4 separate regions of the Homo sapiens genome follow, and regions 2, 3 and 4 are each linked to region 1. Evidence: fine-mapped expression QTL. A gene starts in region 1. Each other region holds a variant in brackets. All regions are shown on one strand. Distances are between the middles of the regions.

Region 1 (6,168 bases):
AGTGACACAAGAGACTTCAGAAATGAAGACCCAAAGACTCAGGGAGAACGGTGTTTCTGCTTAGGTTTGATGAAGAACATGGATGGCCGTATAGAAATGTGATTGGAGAGAAGGGTGTGATCTCATAGTGATAGACTGAGGGGAACCCAGCAAGGCCTGTCCGTTCCAATTCTTCTTGACCTCTCTGTGTAGCATTGCTTTCTCCTGGGTATGGGGCAGGACCCCTCTCGAATGAGGGTCTTTAAAGGAGAAGGGAGAGGGGAGAGAGTGATGTTTCTAGATTTTATGGCTTGCTGTGGAGGAGAGGGGCTCTACTTTCTATGACCTGCCTGGGGAAGAGGGATTCTGGTTTCTATGATTCACTTAGCGGGAGAAGAAGGGGCAGGAGACAGGAGGATGGGAGAAGGTCAGAGAGACCTTGTTTCTGAGGCCTTTTCAGTTTCCTTCAGTTCAAAGTACTCAGCATGCCAAGGTGCCATACTTTGGGGTATCATGTTCTAAGCCCCCCAAAAAAGTGCCTGACACACAACGGGTGCTCAGTAAATAATGTAAGTCCCTTTCTTCTGCTGCCACCCCAAAAGAGGGACCCTCTCTCCCAGCTTCCTAGTGAGGATGGAATGATGTATTGAACCAGCATGAGTCCCATCTACTTACCCGTTACTAAGGGGAATTGTGATAAGCTCTTCATGTGTACCCCACTGTGCTGTTCTCCTATTCTCAGTTCATCTCTTTGCATCTCAACTTGGAAGGTAAGAACTTAATCAGGATGCACTGAACAATTGGCAGAAACTCATGTGAATGTAACTATCTTGTCCAGTTCCTTAACCTGTGCTAAGTCCAGGCAGGCACCTGAAGAAAAAAAAAAAAAAGCATGAAGGAGGCTTTTGCCCAAATGGCACTATACTTGGGGGATTCTGAGTAGGGCTGAAACAGCCTTTGCAAAAATTATAACTGAGGAAATTATGGCAGTGACAAAGATCAGACCTAAATGACTCAGTCTTTCTTCTAACTTTCATGCTGTCCTTATTCATTCCTGGGCATAGGCCAAACTAACCTTAGAAAGGAATTCAGTTTATGGTTTGACTCAGAAACAAAATCAATAATAGCCCTTTCCCGAAAAGACCCCCTTCTTGCCTGGGTGCCAGTCTGCCTTTGTACGATTAATCTATTAGTTACAACATTAGAAATTATGGTTTAGGGGTCCTGCGGCGTCAGGCTGCAAGAGTCTGAACCTTCCCAAGTTGCTGCTGGGGATAACATCGCTATTGTAAAATCTAACATCCTATTTTGCAGACCCTGCACTGGATGGATCAGCTGACACCACTCAGACCGTGTGTGATCTGGCTCAACCAGTTCTGCGATCCCACCCAGGAACAGAAGACTGCAAGAAAACGTTACTTCAACCCCCCTGTGATCCCATCTGCAACCTGACCAATCAGCACTCCCCAAGTCCCAAGCCCCTATCTGCCAAATTATCTTTAAAAACTCCCAGAGGCAGGGTGCAGTGGTTCAACGCCTGTAATCCCAGCACTTTAGGTGGATCACGAGATCAAGAGATCAAGACCAGCCTGGCCAACATGGTGAAACCCCGTCTCTACTAAAAATACAAAAATTAGCTGGGTGTGGCGGCGCGTGCCTGTAATCCCAGCTACCCAGGAGGCTGAGGCAGGAGAATCGCTTGAACCCGTGAGGCAGAGGTTGCAGTGAGCCAAGACCATGCCACTGCATTTCAGCCTGGGCGACAGAGGGAGACTCCGTCTGAACAAACAAACAAACAAACAACTCCCGGAATGCTTGGGGAGACTGATTTGAGTACTGGAATCCCAGTACTTTAGGAGGCCAAGGTAGGTGGATCATTTGAGGTCAGGAGTTCCAGACCAGCCTGGCCAACATGGTGAAACCCCGTCTCTACTAAAATTAGAAAAATTAGCCGGGTGTGGTGGTGGGCGCCTGTAATCCCAGCACTTTGGGAAGCCAAGGCAGGTGAATTATCTGAGGTCGGGAGTTTAAGGCCAGCCTTAAACTGGCGAAACCCCGCCTCTACTAAAAATACAAAAATTATCTGGGCATGGTGGCATGTGCCTGTAATCCCAGCTACTCGGGAGGCTGAGGCAGGAGAATCGCTTGAACCCGGGAGGCGGAGGTTGCAGTGAGCCGAGATCACGCTATTGCACTCCGGCCTGGGCAACAGAGCGAGACTCCGTCTCAAACAAACAAACAAAGGAACGAAAACCTCCGGTCTCCGGCACGGCAAGCTCTGCGTGAATTACTTTCTCCATTGCAACTCCCCTGTCTTGATAAATGGGCTCTGTCTAAGCAGCGGGCAAGGTGAACTCGTTGGGCTGTTACAGGACCAGTGACAGACCAAGGGCATGCCACTGAAGGAATCCCTAGACGCACCCTTCTGGATGTGAGACAGGCGGATCTCACCCACGCCTGCCAGCAGCTCCTCGGAGAACTGTGTTCCTGGGTCAGCCCTGGCCCAGAGGAGCGCCGGGGACCCGCAGAGTGCTGCTGAAGTCAAGGCTACAACTCACCTAGGATCTGGGGCGCCAGCCCTCCGGTGGGCAGGGCGTTCTCCTCCCCCACCCCCTCCCCGCACGATGACATCAAGTGTTTGGCGTTGAGTTGCTCCATAAAAGCTGCCCGGGGAAGCCAGGAGAGCGAAGGGCGGACGTACTCGCCACGGCACCCAGGCTGCGCGCACGCGGTCCCGGTGTGCAGCTGGAGAGCGAGCGGCCACCGGGAGCCCCCGGCACAGCCCGCGCCCGCCCCGCAGGAGCCCGCGAAGATGCCCCGGCGCAGCCTGCACGCGGCGGCCGTGCTCCTGCTGGTGATCTTAAAGGAACAGCCTTCCAGCCCGGCCCCAGTGAACGGTAAAGTTTCCGCCTGCTTCTTTCCTAACACTCCTGAGCGCTCAGCCGCCCCTGGGCTGAAGGCTCTTCAATGATAAAGTAAAATCATTGCTGCGGGGAGCAGGGAAGGTGTAGTACCAAATAGTAGATTCTCAAGAAAGGATGCTCCGTTTTCCTTTGCTGAGGTTGGGTCGGGAAGCACGTTGCTTTCTAGTGGCGCTTGGCGCAGATTTGGTGTTAAAATGTTTGCGTGTACTCCCGGGCACCGCCAGCTCTGAAGATGTGGCTTGGGAACTTGCTAACCAGGGAGGAGATGCAAAGCCAAGATTTAAAACAGCGTTCCCCTGATCCACGTTTAGAAAGTAGAGACATGACTGTGGCATTCTGATTGGGGTAAGCACAGAGAAAGGTTTGCTGTGCCCCTGTGCAGAACCCGCAGACAGTGGTAGGCGCTTTTCTTTGGAGGAGAGGATCTTTACCATTAAGTCTTACCTACAAGTCAAAGGGATGATGCATCCCATTCTTAATCATTGTTTTTCTCCAGGAGGGCTCTACTATGCTGAATGTACGTGTGTGTGCACGTACACACACACACGCACGCGCGCACGCACACAAACCACACACACACACACACACACACACACAGCATATTTCTGATTGTAATTAGAACACTAAATCCCAAAAGGCTGGAGGCTGAGGGACTGAATGGAGGCTCCGTGGAGTGACAGGAGGAGGTGGCAGAGGGGACCTGAACTGTGGGCTCACGCCGGGCCAGTGAGCTAACACGTGTACAGCCAAGGCTGGTTCATTAATCTTTTGGAATAAGAAAGTGATTTTGGACCGAAAGTGATTTTACTGGCTGAAACTAGATTCTTCCTGGCGAGGCAGTGGTGGTGGGAAATGTGTCCTGCTCAGCAGCATAAAAGCTCTGAGCCTCCTCTCTTGGAGGTCACAGTGCCCATGGGGAAGGGCAGGGGAGCCAGGCTGTGGATAACTCTTAATTAAATTCCAGTCAACTAGCTGGCATGATGTGCTTGATATTATCTCCCTCATCTGGTCAGGGAGAAACAGAAGCGATGTAACAGAAGTTGGGAGAAAGGAGCGATGTAAAAGTGAAAATCAAGTTTTAAAACCACAAACTTTACATGTTTCCTTTTACGAAAGCTGCACTGAGACCAAAGTTTCCCTGGAAATCTCTTTAGTCCTAAGTTGCTCCAAGACCAAAGGGAGAAACAGCCATTAGTTGGCCCTCTTTCCTATAGCTGGTTGCTCCTCTCACTCTGGGGCAGCTCTGCCTCCCTTCTCTCTCTTTTCCTGCCCTTCCCTGTTCTCTTCCCTCCCTCCCCTTCCTTTCTTCCCTACTTTCCCTGCTCTTCCTCTTCCCTCTCCCTTTCCCTCCTCCTTATCTCCTCTCCCAATTCTCCAAGTTGGGACTGGGGAAGTTTGTAGTCAAAACTCCACTTTCGCCTCACTCTGAGGAAGGAGACTGCCTACCCCTGGGTAGAGCACAGCTTTTATTCTGTAAATTCTCATGCAGTTTCCTTGGGTTTTTAACTGCCTTAGAGGACAGGTCAAAGCAAAAATCACTGAGGTGTAGAATGTCAGCATGAACCCAAAGTTGGAGGTGGAGAGGAGTTAAGCTGAGTAATGGGGTCAAAGTGTGATCTGCTCTCTGCCTGGTGCATTTAAACTTCCAGCATTGGAGAATGTTCAAGAACAATGTCAGGGGCCCAGGAGGGAGCATAATAATGTGAAGTCAAGTGTCTTCTGGAGAAACCCTTGGAATTCTTAGTTGCCGTGGCTTTGGGGGGCATTTCAGTGAATTCTGCAGAGCTTGCCCTGCCCAAACCTGGTGTGGAGAGCCAGGCAGTCTTGGGCTACCCAGGAGATGGTTACTCAGGGAAAGTTCTAGCACCCAGCACAGGAAGCAGGCAGGGCCCAGGACCTCTGATATGGATCTTGGTAAATACCATTTTCTCTGGGCATTCCCTCCAGGGGAACCTCCCTGCCCAGTACCAGCTGGGTCTGCAGGTTCTAACAGGTTTCAGGCTGAGCCTCCCAGGTTTCCCAGATGGAACAGATAACCTTCCTTGGGAAGGAAACTATTCCCCTCCAGGAAGGGCCTGCTCCCTCAGGATGCCACTGAGGCCTTGGCCTGGCCTCGCTTGTGGAATCAGTTTAATCCTTTTAAGCCTTCTGTTCTTACAGCTAGAAGTGGGGAACCAGGGGGTGCAATTCCTGAATAAAGCACACTTTCGTGCGCGTGCACACACACACACGCACACATACACACACTTTTAGAGAGACTTCCTGAGGTCAGAGCTGAGCTGGGGCCCTGATCCTCACCCGATGAACCCCCTTGACTCACCATCCTCACTTACAACGCCGCTTCTCCCCAGCCCTCCAGCTCCTGAGCCCCTCCAGACACTGCCATTTATACCCAAAGTGCCGAGTCTGGAGTCCCAAGCCAGCTCACTCACAGAGAGGAGGGCAGGGAATGTTGCTCTGGAGGCTGCTGCCTTTCAACAAGTCCCCAGTCCTATGTCACCACCGCGACCTCACAGTCCCAGATGTCCACTCTATGACTTTTAGCCCTGAGCTTTCCAGAGTGTGATGCTGAGGCCTCATCTGAGGATGAGAACTCCAACAACAGGGAAAACCTTGATTAGCGAGCCCTGGGAGGGTAGCAGAAGATGTAGGGTATAAGGCTATGATTTGAATGTGAGCAGGTACAATGCAAACTGCTGGCAAGGCAGCAGTGCTCAGGCAGCAGATGTGTTTCTAGTGGCCTCCAGGATCACTGGAGTGGCCTGTGCCTCCTCAGGGGAAAAGTAAGGGTGAACTCCTCTGTTATTTGTGGAATTTTACATCCTGGGCCTCCAACTGTTCTGCCTGCTAAGAGGTAATGATCTGGCTTATTATATCTCTAAGGTCTGGGATTACATCTTAATAATGAACCTCTCACACAAAAGACTGAAGAAAATGTCCAGAAGAGGTTTTATGTCTTCTATAGCTTGGTTTGAAAGCAATGCTTTCTTTATTTTTTTTCATTGTTGTTTCAGCAAAGGGGTGAGCAGTAAACTTGGGGGTCACATACAAGTTTGGTTTCCCCGTGGTTCTGAATGTCTAATTACTAATTCAAGGGAGGTTGATCTTGGGACCCTCAACTCTCAATGCACCCATAGCTGGTTTCAGGGGAGTCTGTGGACCTTCTGAAATGACTTGTATATAAAACTTTATGTGTCTAAGCTTAGGGAAATTTTTTTTTTGAGACAGAGTCTCGCTCTGTCACCCATTCTGGAGTGCAATGGCA
Region 2 (6,168 bases), 42 kb after region 1:
CTCTCAACCGATTGCCAGTCAGAAAAAAGTTAAATCTACCTATGTCCTGGAAGCCTCCAATTTGAGTTTTCCTGCCCTTCCAGATCAAACCAGTGTATCTTGTACGTATTGATTGATGTATTATGTCTCTAAAATGTATCAAAACAAGCCATGCCCTGACCACCTTGGGCACATGTCCTTATCCTTGGCAAAATAAGGGGAGGGTCTGAGAGACCTAACCTAGTCTGGGGGGCTGAGGGGGCTGGGGTTCTGTCCTCACAGTTGGAGTCAAGTCTTCTGCAGAAGCGACAGGCTCCCATGAGTCGCTTATCTCCTAATGGGTGGCTTCTCCCCCACTGCAGCTGCACATTGTCCATTATAACTCAGACCTTTATCCTGACGCCAGCACTGCCAGCAACAAGTCAGAAGGCCTCGCTGTCCTGGCTGTTCTCATTGAGGTAAGAGATATTTAAAAGGTTCTTAGGTGAAATTTGAAGCAGGGATGAGATTGGGATTCCACCTTTTGTTCCATGCATACCTGTTGATAATCAGCTGTTCCTGTATCGACTCCGTGTCAACTCCAGAGCAGGGGGTATCCTCCTGTAGTGCACCTTCTCTCTTGGCCTGGAGGCAGCACTTTCTGTGCCTGGGCAGCAGAAATGGGGAATGTTCTTTGGTCCGTTGGAAAAACGGGCCCCAACATCTAGCCCTGTTGCATAAGGCATGGAATTGCCCAGTTGGGGAGGACCTGTGCTGGAAAGGGATCATCAAACTCCATCTGCCCCATCAGATGCCTGAACTCTTGATACAACTCCTGCCATCCAAGCTCCTCTAGATCCAAGGGACCTCTAGATCAGTGGTCCCCAACCTTTTTGGCACCAGGGACCAGTTTCATAGAAGACAATTTTTCCACGGACCATGGACCAGGGAGGGAGATGGTTTTGGGATGAAACTGTTCCACCTCAGATCATCAAGCATTAGTTAGATTCCGTAAGGAATACACAGCCTAGATCCCTTGCATGCGCAGTTCACAATAGGGCTTGTGCTCCTATGAGAATGGGAGGCCTCTGCTGATTTGACAGGGGGCGGAGCTCAGGCTGTAATGCTTGCTTGCCCGCTGCTCACCTCCTGCTGTGCGGCCCAGTTCCTAACAGGCCACAGACCGGTACTGGTCCACAGCCTGGGGGCTGGGCACCCCTGCTCTATATGTACCCTGGAATGAATTCTTTTTTTATCCCAAGATAGAGGAATGTCTTCTGATTGGCTTGCATGTTTTTTTTTCCTAATGAGGCTGTATGTACCTCATTTCCCAACATGCTCATTTGTCTGACGTGGCTTTTGTGAACTCAGAGCTCCTTAAGTTCTGTGTGACATGGATGTTAGTCAAAGCCTTCAGGCTCATATCTGGATCATCAAGAGCACACACGGTACCCTATGCCCCAGGACATTCAAGCCCAACTCCTTAAGCTGAAAACAGGACGTCCTGAGATGCAAGAGGCAGGACCATTACACTAACTCCCAAGAGCCTAGTGATCCATCATAATTGTCCAGTAAAGTGGATCCTTCAGGCAGTGGTGGCAACATACCCACAGCTTTGCCCTTCTGATAGCAATCGTCAATCCTGGCTCAGCCTATCCTGTTCTGTCCCAGTTTAACCTGCCCTGTCTCTGTTGCAGATGGGCTCCTTCAATCCGTCCTATGACAAGATCTTCAGTCACCTTCAACATGTAAAGTACAAAGGTGAGGGGTCCTTGCATGCATATTCACTCTCTGCTGGAGAAGGAGGTAGTCAGCCCTGTGTGACTTTAAGAAAAGCAAACACAAGGGGCAGGTGCTGTCTGTGTTCACCAGGTTAAGAGCAGCAGGTTGTTGAACAATGTTGCAACCAGGTCCTGGGGTTAGATGACCCTGAAAGGGGCTAGTTCATGTTTCTAGGCTCAGTCGCTCTGTTCAGCTGCACTTATGCCCTACGGAGGGAGGCTGACACTATCACCTCTGCAACATGTCTCTCTAGGCCAGGAAGCATTCGTCCCGGGATTCAACATTGAAGAGCTGCTTCCGGAGAGGACCGCTGAATATTACCGCTACCGGGGGTCCCTGACCACACCCCCTTGCAACCCCACTGTGCTCTGGACAGTTTTCCGAAACCCCGTGCAAATTTCCCAGGAGCAGGTAACTGTCGTGCCAGACTCAGCCAGAGTCCACGCGGCACCTCAGTCCCCATCATCCTCCATATCACAATCAATGACTTGATTTCCTCATTTAGTTTCATTGGCAGCTCTTCAAAACCTCTCCAAATATCACAGGTGTCTGAAAGCACCGCAGAAATTCCAGGCTGAGCTTCAAAAGAAGTCAAGCTAGGCAAATGAATAGATGTCTCCTAGTTCTTTTTTAAAAAAAAGAGCTCTAAATCTGCATTTGCTAATATATCCTCAGTGGCTGGGTGGTATTCACTTCCCAGGCAGGAGAGAGCCTGGTTCCTTTACAGGGCAGAATAAAGACAGGATCAGATGAAATCATTTAAGAGATGGGATTGCAGCAATGACTAAGTGAGGGTCCCTGCCCCCAAGAAGCTCAAGGTCTAGTGCAAACTGGGGAACAAAATCCTTAGCCATCACCTCTAAAGCTTCTTATTTGATAGGAGATGAGAGAGAAGAGTAGAAGTCTGTGGGATCACCCGCGGGTTAGTGACAAAGCTGAGACCCAAAGTTAGGTCATCTGAGTTCCATGTCACTGCTCATACCTGTCCTCCACAGCCTAAATTCATGAGAAGAAAAATGGCTCCCCAGGAGACGGGGCTGGGGCCAGCACTACACCCTGGCTCACAGCCCCACGCCAGCTTCATGCGTCCAGGGCAGCCTCACAGCTGCTCCTCTTTACAGTAAGCTTCTGCTCTGAGTCACCTGGTAAATGGCAGCAGGTGGGTGGACAGGAATGAGGACATGATGAACCAAGAGATGGATGAAACATGTGGGGAAGCAGCAACATCCTACCTCAGAAACTGCCTTGGGAAAGGGTTATATAATCTATGCAGGTGCATGAAAATGCCATGGAACCCGCAATCAGATGGCCTGTGAAACTCTTAACTCCCTCCTTTATTCCTTCTGATATGACCATCAGAACAAGCCCTGCGACCCTCTGGTTGAGAGCTGGCCTCTAATTTAAGTTCATGAGAGGAACTCAGTCTCTGTGGAGGTTAAGGAGCACTCCATCACCCCAGGTTTCCCTCCACGCAGGGCAGATTCCAGGTATAATTGGAAACTAACAGCACTGCCTTTCCCTGAAGTCTCGGGTGCTGGGAAGATAAACCCAGCGCTGCCCAGCTCCCACTCACCCACTGTGGAGGGAAGCAGTTCTGTGGCTTTCCCTCTGCTTTCTAATATCTCCCACCCGGCCCCACAGAAGCTGGTTCCAGAGGCTTCTCCCAGGTGCAAGAGCGGAGAGCTAGCCTCTTCCCAGGGGATCAGGTGAGGAGGTCATTCTGCCTGC[G/A]GGCTATTTCTGCTCTTGCCCTCAGCTGCTGGCTTTGGAGACAGCCCTGTACTGCACACACATGGACGACCCTTCCCCCAGAGAAATGATCAACAACTTCCGGCAGGTCCAGAAGTTCGATGAGAGGCTGGTATACACCTCCTTCTCCCAAGGTGAGGAGAGGCAGTGCTGGGGGGAGGGGGTGCGGGAGTGTGGTGCCAAGACATTGGGATCTTCTGTGAATGCAGCTCTGGCACTGATGCCCTCAAGAAGTTGGCTGAGAGCTCCCTGGCTGCCACGGGAACCAGGCGCCTTGTGAGACTAGGTGTGGGGCTCACTGGGGTCCCCCCTTCAGTGAGTCTTTGCAGAGAAGCAAAAAGCCGAGGCCCCCAGGCACATGGACCAGAGCACTCTTTAAGCCTGGGAGTCTTGCACAGATGGGTAAGAGAGAATTCCCTGGGGACTTCTCTGTTCCAGACAATGATCCCTTCTCTAAGACACAGGATAGGACCCTTTCCATGAGATCAGACTTCTAACTTCCCTCCCTAGGCTTTCTTGGCATCAAAGGCTGCAGCCAGCCTATCTTAGGCCTGGCCAGGTGATTCATGCACCACCACCAAATGAGCAAGAATGTTCCTATGTTAGATGTAAAACAGTGAGTGTAACCCACAACCATGTCTAATGTAGCAGGGCCTGTTAGGCAAGGAAGCACCCTTGTGCACTGCATTTTTGTCTAACCTCCTTGGAGCTTGCATAAGCACAAGCACATAAGTTCCCAATTGAACAAAACTTAATAGCTTGGTTTCTTCCTAATGCTACAAGGGCTCGGGTCTCCCTTTCACAGCTGTAACCAATAACTCCCCAGTAGAACATTAACCGTTTTCCTTGCTCAGTGCCTACATCAACACTGCTGGAAACTGGGCATCAGGGGAAAGGGGTGAGGGAGCACTTTTGGGGCCCACACCCCTCTTCAGACCTCTGAGTTCACTTTCAAGCTCACTTTCTTACTGTAGATTCTCGACTGCTTCCCAGCTTGGGAATCTTCATGGCTGGTCTGTGCAGTTCCATTTCATCCCCAGCATCACGTGTGGACCAAACCGGGCCTGGCGTTCATATTTAAAGATAACCCGTTCTCACCTGCAATCCCAGCACTTTGGGAGGCCAAGGCAAGCGGATCACCTGAGGTCAGGAGTTCAAGTCCAGCCTGACCAACATGGTGAAACCCCATCTCTACTAAAAATACAAAAATTAGCCGGGCACGGTGTCTTGCCTCCTTTGGGAGGCCGAGGTGGGTGGATCATGAGGTCAGGATTTCGAGACCAGCCGGACCAACATGGTGAAACCACGTCTCTACTAAAAATACAAAAATTAGCCGGGCGTGGTGGCACATGCCTGTAATCCCAGCTACTCAAGAGGCTGAGGCAGGAGAATCGCTTGAACCCAGGAGGCAGAGGTTGCAATGAGCCGAGATCACACCACTGCACTCTAGCCTGGGTGACAGGGCGAGACTCCGTCTCAAAAAAAAACCAAAAAACAAAAACAAAAGAAACCCGTTAACCCACTTGTCAGAATCTGCTCTCCTCGTCTCACCTGGTGCACTTTTTTGGGTTCCTTTCTTATTATATGAGGTTATAACGATCACCTCCTAAACTTAGTTGAACATATGGAGACTGTATTTGAAGGCCCTTTCCAGGAAGCTTTAGAAACTGACCCATCCTTACGGTCAGGATTACATCATTCTCTGTCTTTTCATGAAGAACTGCCCAAGAATTTGTCTTTTGTGTTTTCTCCTCTCCAGGTACAACTAATTAAGATCATTTCCCTCTTTCCTCAGTTTCTCAGTTGGAAAACAGAATCTGTGAACAGTAGCCTTCCTGAAAATTCAAAATCCATGTGATGATAACTAACAGTTTCTTTTCTAGGAAATGAACTGAGTGCATGGAATGTATCTGTTATGGATACAACGCTGTCTTTTCTCATTCTTCTAAGTGGAGAATGTAGTATCCAAGGGTTAAATGGAACTACTTCAACTCTTAAAACCAAAAACATAAAAACTCTGCCAGGAGATTAGGAACTTTGCCCACATAGATCAGATAGAATTTTGCTCGCGATCCCAGGACCCCATTGCCGGCTCTGTTCTCTGAGCTCACCTATGCACACCCAGGGAAGGGGTGGCACATATTCTCCTTACAGTCAGGAGGCCTAGGTTCAAGGCCTGGCTTTGCTTCCTCCTGGCTGCAGGCTGTGGACAAATCGTGTCCCTTCTTCAGGCCTTGGTTTCCTCAGCCACAAAATGCCAGGTAATCCCAGCTACTCAGGAAGCTGAGGCAGGAGAATCGCTTGAACCCGGGAGGTGGAGGTTGCAGTGAGCCAAGATCATGCCACTGCACTCCAGCCTGGGTGACAGAGTGAGACTCTGTCTCAAAAAAAAAAAAAAAAAAAAAAAAAGCCAGGTTGGATTAGGTGATCTCATGTCCTTTCGGTGCTAATATGTTGTGATGGTTAAGTGGACACTAACAACTGCCAATCCTGACTTTACATTGCAGGGACAGTGTTTGAGGGCAGTTACAGAGGATCAGAAGAAACCGGGCAGGAGCTTGACTCTGACATCCAAAAGTAACCCCCGCTTGTAACGATGGACTATGGCATTGGGGATAATTAGCCATCTTCTTAGACCGGCTTGTGTCTAAGCAGCTGCTTGTAGTGGGGCAGCGTAGGCAG
Region 3 (6,168 bases), 600 kb before region 1:
CTCTGCCCAGTCCAGCCCCCAGGATCTTCTCTTTCCCTAGAGCTCCATCTGTACCTGTTGTCTGTGCCTTTGGTCCCTGCCCCGTAGTGCCTAGCACAGATCCTGGCACAGACTGGATGCCCAGACAGTGTTGATTGAATGGAGATTAAGGCAATGGAGAGATGCATGAGTTTGTGTTTGGGAACGTCTCTGAAGTGGCTGCCATAGAATGCTACCTAAGTGTTGGCCTATGTATCTGTTGCTTGCTGAACTTGACTTTGTTGTTGTTATTGCCACTCCGGGTATTTTGAAGACTGTCTCACTGAGGATGATGCTAATGATGGAGTGGTTCAGATGCAGTGCTATTTTGCTATTTTCTGCATTTGGGGCAAATATCCCAGGCATTTCCCTGTATGTAGCTTTTAACCCAGAGCCACTAAGAGTGTACCTCTTAAGTCTGGAGTCTGCTGGCCCCTTATTGAGCCATTAAGCTGAACCAGAAAACTTTCTGAGTTACTCAAGCAGTGGGTATTTTGGGTGGCAAGAAAACATGGGGCAATGATGGCAAATGGCAGTAAGGGGACGGGAGGACCCCCGGGCAAGATGGTCACTGGGAAGTCTCTGAGGACTTAGATCTGCTCCTGCTGGTCACTGAACTGAGGTGCAGAAGCAGGTGGTTGGTGCCCTTCCCTGTGGGGAGGGCCCCTGGAGCACTCAGGGAAGCTGGCTCAGGGCTGCCTGCCACTCTGCCATGGACTCCATTTCATGCTTGCTGTCTCTGTCCCTGGAGTAATGGGTTTCTGAGCCCAGCCCTGGGTACTAGTGCCTGAAGGGGAATAATAATGGTCTAGACTGCTCTAACTATCTCAGAGGCTTTGTGGACAGCCGGTTGGGTATCTGACTTTGAGGCTTGGCTTTGCCATTAACTCTGCGATGACCTCAGGCGAGTCACATGACCTATCCTTATGCCTCAGTTTCCTAATTGTACAACTCTCTGTTTATACCAAGTCCTCTGACTGTGATGCTCCCCCACTATGATGATTAACCTTGTTAGGCTGCCTCCTCTCCAAACTCTACCCAAACCTGGATCCCCACCAGCCCAGTCTGCTTATGGACATTGTGATTTCATCTGGTGGGTCCTAGACTTGGGTTCTAGCTGAGATTTTGCAATGACAAGGCTATGTCATCCTGATCAATAACCTTTCTGGGCCTCAGTGCTCACCTCTGTACACTGGGACTAAGAATACTAACATTCATTCCTCATAGAAGGAATGGACAGAAGGGAAGCCCAGTCCCTGCCCCATCTCATCCACAGGTTGTCATCAGGTGGGGATGCAGACTGGTGGCATGATTTGTCCTGTCCTGGCAGAATCACTCTGAATTTGTGTGACCTGGTAGCTGACAGTGGGGTCATTTCCCCAATGACCACAGTGATGACCTAATCTTGTGGGTCTGTGTCCCCACAGTGGCCAGTTTGCCATCGTGAAGAAGTGCCGGGAGAAGAGCACGGGGCTTGAGTATGCAGCCAAGTTCATCAAGAAGCGGCAGAGCCGGGCGAGCCGGCGCGGTGTGAGCCGGGAGGAGATCGAGCGGGAGGTGAGCATCCTGCGGCAGGTGCTGCACCACAATGTCATCACGCTGCACGACGTCTATGAGAACCGCACCGACGTGGTGCTCATCCTTGAGCTGTGAGTGGGGTCCCCAGGACCCACAGGGTTGGGGGGCAGCAGGGGCAGGCAGAGCAGTGGAAACTCCAGCCACAGGCCCCAGGGGGCAGCAGCAACCAGGCCTAAGCTCAGCCCAGAGGAGGTGAAGTCAGTGGTGGGCAGATCCCCTCTGTCTCAGTTACCCCCTTCCTCCTTACCCGCTTCCTCCTCCTGAAACTGAGCCAAAGGAGGGGCAAGCTTGCTGAATAGCAGGGGCAGAGGGCAATGGCCTAAGTCTGGCTTTCACTGGATCCTGGAGATCAAAGGGAAGAAATGACTGCACTGGGGTCTTTTCCTGGCTGGAGAAGCATGTGGGAGGGTGAGTGGGACAGATGGTGGGGTGGGGCCAGGGGAGGCTGTCAGCGAGGGCTGTGTACTATGAGGAGGGGAAGTACAAACATCTCTGGGCTCTGCGAAGCCCTTCTCCAGCCCTTTCCTGGGGAAAGTCCACTGCATTTGTGCTGTGAATGACACCTTTATTGTTATAATAATAGCTATTATTTAGAGAGTCCTACTGTAAGCCAAGAATTTGCTAGGCGCTTTCTATCTGTCGTCTTGTTCAATCTTTAAAGACTGTGATGAGGGAAATGTCTTACTAGTGCAGACAGGTTATTTTGTATTCATTGTGCAAGCCAAGTACTTCTGTACCTTATTTAATCCTCATAACAACGCTGTCACACAGACACTCTTATTATCCCCATTTTACAGACAAGAACACTGAGAGGCCAGGACACTTACAGGAGCCTATAGCCAGGAAGTGGCAGGACCAGGACTTGAGTCCACACGGCCTGTGCAGACAGCTATGAGTGTGAGGCGGGTTGGCCTTATGCTGGCTTAGCAGAGGAAGACCTCACAGTTCATGATGGAATTTGGATAGATGACCTCAATACTCTAGGGTTTGGCTAGCCACGCTGGTATCGTCCTGGGCAGGTGGGGCTCTGATAAACAATAGAGTTTGAGTTGGGTTGTGGACAAGTTACAGTGGCTGTGTCCAGTCAAGCAGCAAGGACTATATAAAGAATGTTCTGGCCTGGTGCAGTGGCTCATGCCTGTAATCCTAGCACTTTGGGAGGCCAAGGCGGGCAGATCACAAGGTCGGAGTTTGAGACCAGCCTGGCTAACATGGTGAAACCCCATCTCTACTGAAAATACAAAAATTAGCCGGGTGTGGTGGCAGGTGTCTGTAATCCCAGCTACTCGGGAGGCTGAAGCAGTAGAATTGCTTGAACCCGGGAGGC[G/A]GAGGTTGCAGTAAGCCGAGATTGCATCACTGCACTCCAGCCTGGGTGACAGCAAGACTCCATCTCGGAAAAAAAAAAAAAAAAAAAAAGAATATTCTGAGGCTCATAAGCATGTATACACCTGCCTGGTAGCGGGAGTGATAGAATCTCTCAGGAATCCCTGATTTTGTGCCCTTGGGCAAGTCACCTCAATTCCCTGAGCTTTAGTTCTCATCTGTAAAGCAGGCAGCCATCCTTAACCTGCCTACAGACTCGGTGGACCACCTGACATTTGAGATCATTCTAATTTGAGAACTATGCTCTGGTATTGGCAGGATATAGATTTAAGTAGCAGATGGACATTTGCATACTCTTGCATTTGATTCTTAAATTATCCATCTCGGTGTTTAAATGTATAGAATTGCCTGTGCTCTTCCCTTCGCTAGCTCCCAGTGTCCTCCATGTTTCTCCCACGGGCCTCCCAGCTGGTTGGACTACTGGATGCCTGCCCTGCGTGACCCAGAGAGAAGCTGAGGGTCAGCAGTCGGCATCCTGATTCCCAGCAGAGAGTGACAAGTGCACCTTTCTGGAAAGGCCGAGCCACTTCTTAAAAAGTTTATTATGGGGAGGAAAAAAAAAAAACTAAGCAGGAATGGACAAGAAATTACATTTATAATCCTACAACCCAAACACAGCTATTTATGTTTTTCTGTGGTTCCTCTCAATCTTTATCTATTTGTATACAATCATTGTACTTGTATAATTTCCTGCTCTACTTTTTTCCCCAATTAACATAATTCTAAAAATTGGCTTTTCTCTTTTAACTGACTATATGTTTCACTGAATTGCATACCAGTATTTCCCTTGTCTTAGTCCATTTTCTATTGCTTATAATAGAATATCTGAAACTGGTTAATTTATAAGGAAAAGGTATTTATTTCTTACAGTTATGGAGGCTGAGGAGTCCAAGGTTGAGGGGCCACATTTGATTAGGACCTTCTTGCTAATGGGGACTCTCTACAGAGTCCCCCAAGGCAGCCCAGTGCATCACACGGTGAGGGGGCAGAGTGGGATATCTCAGGTCTCACTTCTTATATAGCTACCAGTCCCACCCATGTAACCTGTTAATCCACTAATGCATGAATGGATTAATCCATTCATAAGGACAGAGCCCTCATAACCCAATCACCTCTTTTTTTTTTTTTTTTGAGATGGAGTCTCGCTCTGTCGTCTAGGCTAGAGTGCAATGACGCGATCCTGGCTCACTACAATCTCCACCTCCTGGGTTCAAGCTATTCTCCTACCTCAGCCTCCCAAGTAGCTGGAATTACAGGCACCCACCACCACACCCAGCTAATTTTTGTATTTTTAGTAGAGATGGGGTTTCTCCATGTTGGCCAGGCTGGTCTCGAACTCCTGACCTTAGATGATCCGCCTGCCTTGGCCTCCCAAAGCGTTGGGATTACAGGCGTGAGCCACCGCACCCCGACCCAATCACGTCTTAAAGGTCCCACTGCCTAATACGGCCGCATTGGGAATTAAATTTCAATGCGAGTTTGTAGGGCACAAATAGTCAAACCATAGCATCCTTATTGTTGGACACATGCTTTTTATTTCCTAGCTTTTAACCATTACAAATTTTACTGATAAAACAACTTTCTTCTCATGATTTTCTCCTTTTCTTTTTAATTAATTCTTTCAGCAAAGTCCTGAGGATTTAGCTAACATCCCCAGGAATGGGATGACTAAGCCAAAGGCTGACATTTTTGGGACTCAATATCCTCACTTTTCAAAGATGGTGCTGGTTAACCATTACTACCACAACGTAGGAGTGTTGCTGTGTGCCTGCAGCCCTGCCAGCCCTGGGTCATTTGTTTTGAAACGTGTTTCATTATTTATTGATCTTTATAGCTATAAATTGATACTTTCTTACTATAATTGGCATGCCTTTAATTGCTGGGGAAATTGCCTGCTTCTTCCTGTTTGTAGAACCCTAGGAGTCGGTGGCGGGGATGTGGCAGGTAAATGCTCTTGAGATGTCTGTGTTTTTCCCAACAGGGCTCATGGTCAGCCAGTTATGTGCCGGCTTCTTGTGAGCTCAGGTGCACCATCTGTAACATCAGTTGTCACGCTGGTGCTCCCATGACTTGCTTGGGCCTCTGTGCTTATTAAGTTCTGTCCCGTTTCTGTCTCCCCCTTCACTTCCAAGCTGTCTCATTGTTCTCAGGGTGCCTGTCTATGGACTGCTAAGAATTTATGAGATTGGAGAAGACCCAAGCGTTCCAAGACTGTCCCTAACCCATGTATGGCCAGGTTCTGAGAGGGAGGACCTCCCAGGAGAGGAGTTCCTGGGCTTTTGTTTTTGTTTGTTTGTTTGTTTTTTGAGATGGAGTCTTGCTCTGTCACCCAGGCTGGAGTGCAGTGGCGTGATCTCGGCTCACTGCAATCTCTACCTCCCGGGTTCCAGTGATCCTGTGCCTTAGCCTCCTGTGTAGCTGGGACTACCAGTATGTGCCCCCATGCCTGGCTAATTTTTTTTGTATTTTTAGTAGAGGTGGGGTTTCACTCTGTTGGCCAGACTGGTCTTGAACTCCTGGCCTCCAGTGATCCACTCGCCTTGGCCTCCCAAAGTGCTAGGATTACAGGCATGAGCCACCGCACCCAGCCTCATGGGCTTTTGTTGCTTAGACTTAGTGACTCCTGTTAGGCTGGTCAGAAGTCTTGGCCTCGTGGTCCTCACTGGGCCCTAATAGGTTAGTGGGTTTGCCCAGTAAGTGTTAGTATCCACCTACTCAGTTGAAAGCTGCCCAGTTGCAGGTTTTATGAATGAGTCTACGCTGATCCCACTGCCCCTCTCAGCAACTGTTGTCTGGTGCAGGGCTTCCGCCTGCTTTCTGCTCAAGTGGCCAGCACTAGGAGGACATGCCTGGCTCTGATCTAAATCCCTTTCAGTTGTTATTATCCCATCTGTGACCTCCCTAGAAGCAGCTGCCTCTGGTCGTGACTCTTGAAGGCAGGACTGGGAAGGATTTAATTGTCCATATAAGTTGACTTCTGTATGGGGTATAGAATATATTCAAAATCTCAGCAGCTTAACTCATGTCACATGTGGAACTAGCCCTGAAAAATGTAAGTCTCCCTGTGAAGGTTGGGCTGGCCTCCCATCACAGGCCCCTGACTGCTCTGGGGCCTCCTTGATTCCAAGCCTGTGGAAAGCGATACCGTGGTGGTTGCATACCAGAGAACTGCCTGGCAGAGTGCTCCAG
Region 4 (6,168 bases), 30 kb after region 1:
CAAAAATTAGACAAAAGTTTGATGCAAAGTATGGATTAAAGCATCTTTAGAAAATGTGTTTATTTTTATTGATCTATAATGTAAAATCCAAGAAAAAGAGTTGGCCTGCTATGGCAAGTCCAGCTTTGAGCTTTATTCATAACAAGTAACCCTCCCCTTCTAGCCCTCCCTCACTGTCCCGGGACCACCTCTGATTCAGTGGTGATACTGACAAAGGAAAACTCTAACGCTAGTTTGATTCCTCGCCCTCTGTTTGTACATAATAACATCATAAGACCTCATCCATCAATTATTAACCCATGTCCTTGGTCACCTCCTTTCCTTCTGGGCAGGACATTGGGGTTTATGACTGTGCCTCTCCGCCTACCCAGCAGGAAAACAGGTAGAATTCAGCAGGTTGTGGCCTTCTGTGCGGTGGGTCAACCTCTTACCAAGGTGATGCTGTGGGAACCACACTACTGACTGGCTGAACCCACTGGGTTTTTATGAGAAGACATAGATATTTTAATCAGCTTCAGAAGTGAACTGCAGGACCTATAAATATATTTTAAACATGTTTTTAAAATGTAGCTTCTAGGCTGGGTGCAGTGGCTCACATCTATAATCCCAGCACTTTGGGAGGCTGAGGCAGGAGGATCATTTCAGCCCAGGAGTCTGAGACCAGCCTGGGCAATATAGCAAGACCCCATCTCTTTAAAAAAATGGCTTTTACATGCAGACACCATCCTGAGGATGTCTGGTTTCCAGATGGATTTAGAGGGGACATGAAGTCTGCGGTCCCCTCTGAGTCCTGTGGCTTAGCTGTGTTCTCTGTGGCTCTAGCCACAAGAGCGGGACTGTTGGATGACCCCCAGAGAGAGGCAGGTACTAGCCTCCCAACAGGAAGACCTTTCTAACAGATGGAGGAATGTACACAAGCAGGTGTCAAATGATCCTAGCTCAGCCTTGGCACAGGGCAGGACCCAGACCTGGCAAAGGGAGGCCGGATGGATCCCAGACTCTTTCTGAGTCAATGCATCACACATCCCTAGAATATACCAGCCTCTCCACTGCAGCGGGGCCTCTGAGCTTGCTGGGCCCTCTCTAGTGAACGCCATTCCTCACGTTTCACTCATGGTTGGTTCTACTTGTCCTTTAAATCTCAGCTTTAACGGCGCCTCCTCTGGGAAGCCTGCCTGCATCATCTGCTTGACAGGGATCCCTCCATTTTTCTGTTGCAGCCCTCGTTTAATTCCTTTGCAGCGCTCATTGCAGATTGCAATTATTTCCTTGTGCATTGGTTTACTTGTTATTTATTATCAGTCTCTTACACTGGTCTGTGAGTGCCGCAAGGTCAGAGACTAGAGCTGTTTTGTTCTCCATTGCATCTTCAGCACCTAGTACAGTGCCTGACACATACTAGACACATTTGTTGAAGAAATGAATGCATTAACTCCAAAATTAAATTGCACTCCAAGAAGGAGAGCATTTAGAGATTTTTCTCCTTCATTCAACATTTGAGTACTCGTTTTTTATTGCAAATACAATCCATCTTATTAAATGTGTATTCAAATTTGGTACATAATTTTTGATCATTTTCATATAGATACACATGCCTTTCATTATGGTCAGACCTCCTTACAAAACAAACTTTGAGGGACTAACCAAAAGCTATCATTGTCCTGAAATTGTGCCTATTTGTTGAAAAAGGGCGTGTCATCATCTAGAATGTGTAAACTTTGCCACTACAGTGGTATCCTTTGGGGCAAGTTTTGATCTGACTGCGTGTTGGTAGCCGGCCCAAAGAGATGTACCCTGGAGCTTGGGCCCAGGCAGGTTCTCCAGGAAGCTGCCTGCAGTGAGCACTGACACAGACACAGGGGGGTCCACCTCAGAGTATGACCTCCAAGAAGTGTCATGGGGCAGAATTAATGTTGACTCTGGTGCCTGGATCCCCCCACTGTCTTCTCATGGCTACCTTTCATCAGTGAGCCCCTCTTTCTTCTGTCTCCAACCTTCCTTCTCTGGTCTCTTTTGCCGTCTGCATAGCAGTTTGCTCAAGCCTCTTCATAAAAAACAAAAACACAGGCTGGGTGCGGTGGCTCGCGCCTGTATTCCCAGCACTTTGGGAGGCCAAGGCAGGTGGATCGCTTTAGGTCAGGAGTCTGAGACCAGCCTGGCCAACATGGCGAAACCCCATGTCGACTAAAAATATAAAAAATTAGCTGGGCGTGGAGGCACGCACCTGTAATCCCAGCTACTTGGGAGGCTGAGGCAGAAGAATTGCTTGAACCTGGGAGGCGGAGGTTGCAGTGAGCTGAGATTGCACCACTGCACTCCAGCCTTGGTGACAGAGCAAGACTCAGTCTCAAAAACAAAAACAGAAACAAAAAACAAAATCTTTCACATTACCCTCACCTTACCATAACCACCACGCATACACCCTTCTCTCATCCCTTTATGGCTAAATTTCTGAAATGAGCTTAAAAAAACCCTCCACATCCATTCAAGGATGTGTTCAGACATAAGTAGGGATATGACATAAAGTTCTGGTCTTCCAAAGGTCTTTGAAACTCATATTCTGAGCTCTAGTCTGTAATAAGTTTCTGTACTAGTCTGGCTCTAACAGTCACAGGTGAGGCAGGCTAACAATCATCACTGCTTGCTAGTGTGCACAACCCGAGTAGGCTGGCCGAGAAGTTCAAGTCAGGGACTAGAAAGCACTGGGGTAGCTTTGGCAGGACCTGAGCTGGACTTTGAAGAGTGGACGAAATTTGGAAAGGTGCAGAGGAAAGAAGAGGGCATTTGAGCAGATTTTTTCATAACGGCATTTGTGAAGGTGGGTTGGCATAGCCTGTTCTTAGGCTCAGGGAGCTGGCTGAAGCATGGGGCAGGCTGGGGCGGGATGTGGGGGCCTTTGAAGACTTTGACAGGTTGGGGCACTTCAAGGCCATGAAAAACAGCTAGGCTGTGCTTTGTCTTGTTGGGGTGGGGCAGGGCATGCTAGGGAGAAAGGGAGTGTACGGATGGGTGGTGGGGTGGTGCCACCCAAGCCAGGCTATGACAA[G/A]ATTGATCTGGTTACTGCAGGAGAGCCAGCCTGGCAGTGTAACAAGGAAGGCTGGGGCTGGTTGCCTGTGGGAAGCCTTTGCAGTGTGACATGGCGAGGGCCTAACCCATGGAAGCATGGGAGTCCATGACCCACTAAGGGCAAAGGATAGACCAAGCTGGCTCTGAGATGTTGAGCCTTGGAGGAGCGGGGCCCAGGTGTTCTCTGATGAGGCATTCCACCATCAAGCTGTAATCTAGGCCATAACACATCCTCTAATTGCAATATTGCAAAAAATATATGGACTGTATGTGAACCCTGAAATTTACAAACTGTTAAAAATTTATGACCTATTTGGAAAAATTTGAATTCTAATTGGATTCGGTAATCTTAAGGTATTAATTCTTAACTCTCTAGGTGTGGTCATGGTACTGTGGTTTTAAGAGCCCTTATGTTTTAGAGAAACATATGAAATATATACAGATGAAATATATCTGGATTTGTTTCCAGTTATCCAGGTAGATAAGGGGAGAATGGGCTTAGCATAGATGAGGCAGGACTGTTTCTGAATTGTAAACTGTCCAAGCTGGGTGACATGGGGTTCATTCCACTCCTCTCTCTACATTGTATACATTTGAAATTTTCTGTAAAAACATTCTGGTCCTTGGATAATGCAGGTCCTACACCCTGGGCCTCAAAATTCCCAATCAGAAATCACGAGAGGCATTTTGAGCTGTGCCATGTTAATCTCTTGTTACCTTTCGAAACAGGAATTCTGACCACTTCTGTTTTGCCTAGAGCAGGAAAAACACATAGACAGGAAAGAAATAATGCCTTGGCTTTATTTAGAAAAACAAACTGTGAAAGACACGTGATCCTCCTGTATCACGATCATGGGAGGAGTCCAACCAACTGGAGAGGCGAAGTCAAAACTCAGAAGAGCAAAGGCAAAGTTTTAGCTGGAAATAAATGCTTCTTTTAGGAGAGTCACTCCCAGTGGAGGATTTCTGGCAGTGGAGCACTTGGCATGAGTGTGAAAGCTGACACTGAGTTGGAAAATGGTAGCCCAGGGTGTAGCGGCCAGCATAAGGCCAGCACTGTGCAGTCACATGTCACAGCTCAGGGAACAGAAAGGCCTGCTGTTGTCACCTCTGATATTGGTTGTCCCGGTGCCCACCCTCATGGCACCTCTATCTCTCACATGCCACAAAGACAGGAGGCTGCTCTGACAGTGTCCCCAGCTATGCAAGGCGGGGACACCCACTAGCCATTACATGCTGGGGGAGGGCCCTATGAACTTCCTTGGCAGGCCGTCTCCCAGGCTACAGGGCAGAAATCAGATTTCTTTTTCAATTAGTGCCCCCAAACAGAAACCATTTGCACACAGGTAAGCTAGAAAGCTAGGAGGGTACATTTTGAACCTGAGCAAGTGATCTCATTTTTCCTCCTCTTTTTTGAGGAGAAGAAATACATGAGGGAATTAAGGTGGGTGCACGTTCCCTGGGAAAGGAACAAGCATGAAACAGGTGTTGAGAGTTCAGCTTAGTAAACATGTGAGGGCCCACTCTGTGCCAGGCACTGTGGGAAGTGCAGCGATGGATGAGCCGTGGTCCTTGTCTTCAAGGACAGCGTGGGGAAGCCAGGAAATTCCAGGTGCACAAAATCTCCTGGATAAATACTGAAGGACACATAAGTCCTGTGACCCAAGCAAAGTAACTGTTACTTAGCCAAAGTCAAACTTCCGGCAAATCTCTTAAATCTCTATTTTTCACCCATAAAATGGTGCAATTCTGCCTTGCTTACCCCGTAAGGTTATAGAGTTATAAGGATCAAAGCTACTACAATATAATAACAATGAGGAGGAGGAGGAGGAGGCGAAGACAAGGCTTTCTTGACCTTGCTGACCTACAGACCTGTGACTGGTGCCCAAGGACGAACTCCGCTGTGGATGGCAGCCAGGACCAGGGCAGGTTCCTGATGCAGATGGCTGTCTGATCCCAGCCAGTCCTGGAGCACCGGTGCCCTGTGCCCTCATTCCCGAAGCTGGTTCCCCTGGGCACCTTGTCACATGCCCAGTAGCTGCCTTGACATGAGCAACCTTTCTGACTCATTCAAATTTGCCTGACAGATGGAGAAGGTGCTTAGTCCTAGTATTCTTAATAAATATCAGAGCTTAAGAGCCAGAAGGAACCTTCCAGAACATAGCTTCCACACACATCCCATCCCCACCACTACGCCCACCACCCCCACCATTTGCACGAAGGGCAATGGAGGCTCCAGCAGGGAACATAACCCACTGAAGTGTTGGGACAGCTGATGCTGGAATCTCATTCTCTGGACTCCCCTGGTCCAACATAGCTGCTTCTCTTTCCAAGACAGGTTTTGCCAACACCAACTCTACTGCCTTTAATATCCTTAGTCTTTCCTGCCCCCCAAATACCTTATTTGGTCCTAACTTCCAATAAAGCGTATTTAGAGCAAGAGAAAAAGGAAACATTCCCCAAGTCACATTTTCCCAAGCCCTCTGTTCTTTTTCACTCTTTGGGAAAATGTTTCCTAAATGCCCATGGGGGCACGTGACCCTACTTATAATATGGGTTCACAGAGACGAAGATGAGGGGTCCCTATCTTCACGAGGCTCTCGTTTAGCTATCAGTAAAATGCCCTCTTGATGAAACCTTTTTGAACCTCCACTGTGGGAAAAGAAAACCCTTCTAATCCAGTTCCCTTTAGTCATGTGTGCAAAGAGAAAGCTTCTCAATGATGCATCTCTTTACTTCCTGAGTTTTTTGCATTCATGCCTGGCTGGCAGCTTCCGCCCTGCTGGCTGTGGGCCCAGGCAGTATTGTGAGCACAGAAAAGGCTGGCAGCCTCACTTAGGGAGTCTTACCCTGTGCTGTGTCTCTTCCTGACCCTGGGGTTCTACATGAGGCCTCACGGTTGCTTCATTCTGCTCCCCGCTGCCCCTAAAGCATTCGGTTTGGCCCCCAGCTGAATAATTGTCTTACTCCAGTTTGGCCCTGGAGTGCCTGCTTTGATATCCTCCAGCCTCCCTCTTCCCTAGTCACCATCTTGGTGTAGTTGAGTTATTTTGAGGCCTTGAAAATAAGAATAGTAGAGCTCAGCGGAGACTCTGCCATGCC

Alleles and levels. Alleles are on the strand shown, and positions count from the first base shown. SD is a standard deviation of normalised expression in the study named. Not every link is listed here.
As copies of A replace G in region 2, the expression in sun-exposed skin of the gene that starts at base 2,666 in region 1 goes up (large effect, 0.77 SD a copy in GTEx).
For the expression in esophagus mucosa of the gene that starts at base 2,666 in region 1, allele A in region 4 goes with a lower level than allele G (large effect, 0.90 SD a copy in GTEx).

The links. PIP is the estimated chance that this variant, and not a neighbour inherited with it, causes the effect.
Region 2: its variant is fine-mapped to the expression of CA12 in sun-exposed skin (GTEx, PIP above 0.99). The same link has a PIP of 0.9 or more in esophagus mucosa and unexposed skin.
Region 3: its variant is fine-mapped to the expression of CA12 in cerebral cortex (GTEx, PIP 0.99).
Region 4: its variant is fine-mapped to the expression of CA12 in esophagus mucosa (GTEx, PIP above 0.99).

What each region holds. Positions count from the first base shown.
Region 1 is chr15:63,378,344-63,384,511 of GRCh38, reverse strand. CA12 (carbonic anhydrase 12) reads left to right here and starts at 2,666. Exons shown (of 11, transcript NM_001218.5): 1 at 2,666-2,876. The coding sequence starts at 2,792. RefSeq lists enhancers at 1,942-2,461, 2,462-2,982.
Region 2 is chr15:63,336,271-63,342,438 of GRCh38, reverse strand. It overlaps CA12 (carbonic anhydrase 12), which reads left to right. Exons shown (of 11, transcript NM_001218.5): 5 at 342-437; 6 at 1,656-1,719; 7 at 1,994-2,151; 8 at 3,494-3,620. LOC124903506 (a long non-coding RNA gene) reads right to left here. Exons shown (of 3, transcript XR_007064676.1): 2 at 518-625. Among named protein-coding and RNA genes, the nearest start is that of CA12, 42 kb to the left of the region's middle. RefSeq lists an enhancer at 3,314-4,210. The variant G/A (reference allele first, on the strand shown) is at 3,469.
Region 3 is chr15:63,979,032-63,985,199 of GRCh38, reverse strand. DAPK2 (death associated protein kinase 2) reads left to right here. Exons shown (of 12, transcript NM_014326.5): 3 at 1,446-1,667. Among named protein-coding and RNA genes, the nearest start is that of DAPK2, 64 kb to the left of the region's middle. The variant G/A (reference allele first, on the strand shown) is at 2,924.
Region 4 is chr15:63,348,255-63,354,422 of GRCh38, reverse strand. The region is part of intron 2 of CA12 (carbonic anhydrase 12); the gene reads left to right. Among named protein-coding and RNA genes, the nearest start is that of CA12, 31 kb to the left of the region's middle. The variant G/A (reference allele first, on the strand shown) is at 3,047.